2 linked regions of the Homo sapiens genome follow. The protein of the gene in region 1 interacts with the protein of each later gene in a pairwise test. Each region holds a gene or a part of one and is shown on either strand. Other genes may lie near its edges. The genes, in order: PELI1 and PDAP1.

Region 1 (4,025 bases):
CTTGTCTGTAAAAATGACAGATAAGATCATCTAAGGCCCTTTGAGACTTAAAATTCTTTTCTCAGAAACAAAGCTTTAAAAGATCATAAATTTAGCATAGTAACTACAGTATTAGAACTTCAAATCACATAGATTTTAATGGTATCAATGACAAACAGCTCTTAACTACCAAAAACTTTTCCAGATTAAATTCTTCTAGCAGGAAATTTGAGAGTCATTTGAAGAATAGTTTAATATTTAGCTTAGGGTTTTAAACCGCCAGTCTTAGCCTATGGGTTCCTCAGTTAATCATTAGCAACAGTAATTGTCTCTGTGTCTGGTACTTGGTGTCTTAAAATGCAGATAATTTTTCTTCTCAACCCTCTAGAAGTGAAGCTGGACAAGGTTTCATGCTGTTGCTGCTTAGAAAAGAGCTTTGAACTACAGGAACGCAATGTGGGACTAAAGAGCAAGATCCAGAAGTGGGATGAGTCATGCAACTCAGAGGACAGTAGTGAAGGGGCAGTGAGGAATCGACAGAGGGTCTGGGGGCAATACAAAGCCTAAAATAGCTAAAATAATTATTAGCTAAGGGGCTGTACTTTGGACTTACAGCAAGGCTAGCAACATTACCAAGGGCTTTCTCCAATACAAAGTATTTTATTTTTTATAAAGGGTCAATGTAGTTTCTATATATGGCAGTCATTGAGTAAACTCTCTTCTCAGCTTTAAAACATTCTTCCTTGCCAGCCACAATTACAGGCCATTTTATAATCACTTCCTCCTCCAGCCTCAAAACTGTCCCTGTTCCCTGCTTCCTTTCCCCCTAGATTGACCAACTACATATGGTAGATCATCAAACCCAAGATTTGTCAGGGGGCGGGGGCAGGGGAGGTGGACGGTGAATGAGGAAAGATTATTATTAAGCTACTGCTCATGCCTCAATGAAGCAGTAAAGAATGACATAACCACATGACAAACATACTTAAATTCAAATTCTGGCTTTGCCAGTGTCACTTCAGAATATAATTCTTCTGAGTCTGTTTCCTAATGTACAAAAATGGGGACAGTGATTTCAATCTAGTAGAATTTTTGCAAGGGTAGATTTAGTGAGGTGATGTGTATGGGATAGCATTCAATAGTGCCTGGTACATAGTAAACACCCAAATATTTTTATTTTGTTTTTAACTTGTTTCCATTGGTTTAGTACTTGCTTACCTTTAGGATGTATATGTGTGTGTGTGTGTATGTGTACATGTTATGGAGAAATGGTCATAAGATCTGAACAACAAAAGTATGTTTACTACTTAGCAAACATGTCTGTTGGACAGGTTCTGCTAACATAATGAGAGTGCATTTGTACATTCAGGTAGCTAAGACTTAACAAATCTAAAAATTCCTTACTTCAAAAGTTCAGCTATTTAAAGTGTTTGGTTCACAATTAAAGGAGATTGTGTTTTAAACAATACATACTGTACTTTTTAAAGGTTGTATTAGCACATGCAAACAGTTCACCTTAAAAAAACAGAATGAGTCATAAGGAGTCAGACATGCCATTAATCAGCTCTTAATTATCTTCCATAAAAGAGGGAAGGAAAAAAATAGAGATAACACGAATCTGTGTATAATCCAAAAGGTTCTCTGTGACTTGGAATGAAGCCAGAAAAAGAATCTCATTTTGTTTCACACACTGGCACCTGGTATGGAGATCAACAGTTGCTCAAAGGAATTTTAAATAATTATAATGTGTTAATAGATAATTAATTGGGAATTGATTCTGCAAGGCAAAGTCAAACATTTGTTTTATAATTGTGCAGTTCTTGCAAGAGATCACCTATACTTTTTTTCCCCCATCAGGTATAATGGGTCTCTCCCAAATGGCGATAGAGGAAGGAGGAAAAGTAGGTTTGCTTTGTTTAAAAGACCTAAGGCAAATGGGGTGAAGCCCAGCACTGTGCATATTGCTTGTACTCCTCAGGCTGCAAAGGTAAAAAAAAAAAAAAAAAGCTACATAAATTAACTTGGAGAATTTGAAAGACTTTTATGTGTTGTTTGTATTCTCTAGCATTCCCCTTACATTTCTATTTCAGAAATTGCCTTTTGTTTGGATTGGAGAAGAGACTTTGGAGACATGGTATTTGAAGAGCTGCCATATGGAAGGGGAATTGGACTTTTAAAAAAAAAATGACAAACCAGGATCAGTGGGTGGAAATTAGAAGGAAACACTCTGTTTCCTTATTAAAAGAGGTGGGATGGGGGACAGGGCTTTATCTAGTACTTAGAATTATGCAGCTGTCTGCCCTGAGAAGTGGGAAGTTCCCACTCTGTTACTAGAGGGGTCTCCCTGGACTGGATGAAGAATGTGATGTATAATATGTGTATTCAGGTATTAGAAGCACATTTGGATGAGGTAATTTTTAAACTAAGGGTCTTTACTTAAGATTCTTTGTATTGGTTGTATTCATTTTTGGTTTATAACTTCATATATTTGAGCATAGTACCTTGCACAAAGTAGACCTCAATAATTATTAAGTTGAATCAAAGCTATGAAGGCAATATCCAACTGCATCTACAATATAACTTCTCAACCCCCTAGCCTATTTCATGCTTCTAGCCCCCTTGTATTCTTCTAACAAAATTTCCAGAAGCTGGACCACCATTTCAGGATACTTGGGCTTTTCCTAGAGTGACAGACAAGGAGGGGGAATTTCACATCTTTATATTTTCTGTGAATTCATCTGCCTCCAATTTTATAACACTGACTTTGTGTTACAAAGAATTTAATATTGTAATGAGCAAATAAGAAAAATTAGAAAGAGTTCTTTGACTCCTGGAAGTACCTGTATCTTTAGCTAAGTAGCCCTAGGATGTACATTAATATTATACCATCTGAAGCATATCTTTGTAAATTAAATAAACAAGAGACAGAAAAATTGGCATATGATGTGGTTTTAGGTTGCAGCTTCAGTGTCTGAAGGTAATTGGCTTTTCAGCTTTGTTTTATATCCAGTTTGATTTGTGAAAGAATCCTTAGGCCTTGACTAGGACTCCTCTGTTACTATTTGGGAGCCAGTTGGTGCAGAAAAGGGACAGTTTCTTTTTGCTCCTTTGGCGAGAAGGAATATACTAAGCAGGTGGTGGAAGTAAACCTCAGATTGATTGAATCTGAGGAGCTTCTTACAGTAGCTCCCCCCGGAGTGCTCTTGACATTTTGGGTATGCCACTTTTTCATTGTTCAGTACTTTCCCACATACTACAGGACATTTATAGGTCCTTCACCCACAAAATGCCATTTGAGCCTGCAAATCCTCGTAACAGCCAAAAAATGCACAGCATATTTTCAGATGCCCCTTAGACTGCTAATACTACCTCTGGTTGAAAACCACTATCAGGGAAAATATTTCTAATCCCTGCCTCTGTAATACCATATTCTGTACTTTTCTTCCTATTTTACTCTGCCATGCCCTCATGTTTTCATTGTTATCTCTTTTTCATCTTTCATCTTTACTAGGCAATAAGAATCTTAGGGATCACAGATTGACTCTTGGCTGGGTGCGGTAGCTCACACCTATAATCCCAGCACTTGAGAGGCCAAGGTGGGCGGATCACTTGAGCTCGGGAGTTCGAGACCAGCCTGGGCAACATGGTGAAACTCCATCTCCACCAAAAATACAAAAAATTAGCCAAGCGTGGTGGCATGCCCCGAAGTCCCAGCTACTTGGCAGGCTGAAGTGGGAGGATCACTTGAGCCCGGGAGGCAGAGGCTGCAGTGAGCTGAGATCATGCCACTGTACTGCAGCCTGAGTGACAGAGTGAGACCCTGTCTCAGTTTAAAAAAAAAAAAAAAAAAAAGATTGACTCCTCCTCTTTAAATTTTGGAGGAATGTATTTGTGAGGTCATGATGAAAATTAAGCATTTAGTCTGGCAGTCATCTGGGATGAGTAGTTAAAACCCTGCGTTCTAGGCCAGTGAGACTCAAACGTAACTTGACATAGTTTTTATTCTCAGTCTTAGAGTAGGTTTAATAACTAACAAACAAAGATTA
Region 2 (2,212 bases), on another chromosome or scaffold:
CATGTAGCTGGGAGCCATGCTGCCTTAGCCATGTGTGCCACCACACCTGGCTAATTTTTAAATTTTCTATTTTGTACAGAGTCTTGCTATATTGCCCAGGCAGGTCTCAAACTTACAGCCTCAAGTGATCCTCTTGTCTTGGCCTCCCAGAGTGCTGGGATTACAGGCCTGAGCCACCATGCCCAGCCCTTCCTTCCTTGTAGGATGTGGTCCCCACTGCTTTCATCCTCCTGGTCATCTTCTCTGGAACACTCTTGGCCTGGTCCCCCTTCTCTCCATGGCCGCCAGAGCCTGATCATGAAGCCCTCAGGCATCTTCCCCTCCCTGCTGTAGCTGGACATTGTCCCCTTTCCCTCTGAGGCTTTCTGGACATCGCAGATGTTTTCTCCCTGGGCCTCTCCCTCCTGCTCACTTGCTTGGTGAACGTCCACCAAGCAGGGGGTTCATGGAGGCAGGGACTCACAGCCAGGGCACCCCTTCCACCTCGGCCCTAGGCCGAATCCTTGGCCTTTATTCTGACTCCCGTCCAGTTTGGCAAACAGTGGTAGGAAAGATGTCCCCATGACACCATTTTATCCACACAGAGAAGAGATTGAGAAGCAGAAGGCAAAAGAGCGTTACATGAAAATGCACTTGGCCGGGAAGACAGAGCAAGCCAAGGCTGACCTGGCCCGGCTGGCCATCATCCGGAAACAGCGGGAGGAGGCTGCCCGGAAGAAGGAAGAGGAAAGGAAAGGTAAGGGCTGGGCTGCGCACGCAGGGACAGGCCCCAACTCTGGTCCTGGGCCAGCCACAAAGCACTGAACTCGTGTCCCTGTCCGCGAGGTGACAATGAGGTGAGGAGTGACTGCTGCCTAGGAGGTCGTTCAGGAGAGGGCCACCCTCCCTGTGCCTGCCACTCCCTCGGGGACCAGGAGGGTCCAGCGACATCATGGGGTCGGATGTAGGTTGAAGTCTCAGCAGAGCACCGTCCACAGTAGGTGGACAGTCACTCCTGCTCCCAACAGCGGGAGGTCACAGGAAACCATGCCCCTAGTACAGACCTTGCCTGAGGCTCACAGGTCCCACTAAGGTCTCTGGTGCCTTGGGAACCCAGGAGAGATGCCTGAGGTCACCGCTGTCCATCTGCAGGGCTTGGGAGGGTGAGCTGGATACACAGCAGTGCAGACTGGCTTGACATCCAGCCCAGGCATCCCTTTTCCTGTGCTCTCCCCTCCAGGCAGGCCAGAGATGGTGGAGGTTCCTCTAGGCCAGAGTGGCTATGGGAGTTGGTCCAGTTTATAGGAGCATTCAACTTGCAACATTCCATCTCCCGGGGGTCTGTGAGAGCCCCTACATGTCCATCTGTCCTGCCTCCTCACCAGACCATGAGGAAGCAGGCCTGGAAAGGGGAAACCAATTGCTCAGGGACATTGTCACCCGCACCAGAAATCCAGTGATCCCAACTTCCCATTCAACCCTGCTTCACAAACCCCAAGCAGGAAAGGACTTCACATGTAACTGTTGGAATGTTTAAATTTTAGACTTCAGAACCCGTGGAGGGAGGTTAGAATTACAGGGTTCTGCTGGGAGGTGGGGTGAGAAGTTTCCGTTTGCCCACAAGAGTGTGTGTTGGTGGGGCTTTGTGGAAGGAACAGCTTTCTATAAGGTGGTCTGGCCACTGAAGCGTGTCGGGAATGTCGGGGGGCCCGGGGTTACAGCTGCAGCAGAAATCCTCTCCCACGCCTCGGCTCTTCTCTGTTGCACAGAATGTTTTCTGCAGCCTTTCAGACCTAAAGTTCTAGGGTTCTGGCACGTGTGTTGGGAGGGGGTGGGGGGTTGCTTTGTTTTAACCCCTGCCCTTCTCCCACCCCTCAGCAAAAGACGATGCCACATTGTCAGGAAAACGAATGCAGTCACTCTCCCTGAATAAGTAACTGCGACCCGTGGGAGGAGATGCCGGGGACCTGGGCCGCGCTGCCAGGACCTCTGCTGTGTCTCGCCCACCCTGTGCCCTGGCGCCGCTGCAACAGCCCCTCATGGCCAGGAGCCCCCCATGGCCTGGGGCCTCCTCTTCATCTTGGCACAGAAATTGTTTGGGGGATGGGGGGGGGGACTGGGGGAGGGGTAGCTGCTATCTTTGAGACAGAAAGATGCAGGACAGCATTTCATATGTAACCATTTGAATGTTTTTGCTGTTTTTAGAATTCAGAGCCCTTGCTGGGGGGTGCCT

What was found.
Region 2: the proteins of PELI1 (region 1) and PDAP1 interact in binary tests that used the Homo sapiens proteins (3 or more experiments, as listed by UniProt).

The regions. Positions count from the first base shown.
Region 1 is NC_000002.12:64,102,642-64,106,666, reverse strand, and holds part of PELI1 (E3 ubiquitin-protein ligase pellino homolog 1), read left to right. Parts: intron 1-1,836; coding exon 1,837-1,966; intron 1,967-2,069; exon of another isoform or gene 2,070-2,110; coding exon of another isoform or gene 2,111-2,113; intron 2,114-4,025. UniProt on the Homo sapiens protein: E3 ubiquitin ligase catalyzing the covalent attachment of ubiquitin moieties onto substrate proteins. Involved in the TLR and IL-1 signaling pathways via interaction with the complex containing IRAK kinases and TRAF6.
Region 2 is NC_000007.14:99,396,386-99,398,597, reverse strand, and holds part of PDAP1 (28 kDa heat- and acid-stable phosphoprotein), read left to right. Parts: intron 1-584; coding exon 585-736; intron 737-1,857; coding exon 1,858-1,916; 3' UTR 1,917-2,212. UniProt on the Homo sapiens protein: Enhances PDGFA-stimulated cell growth in fibroblasts, but inhibits the mitogenic effect of PDGFB.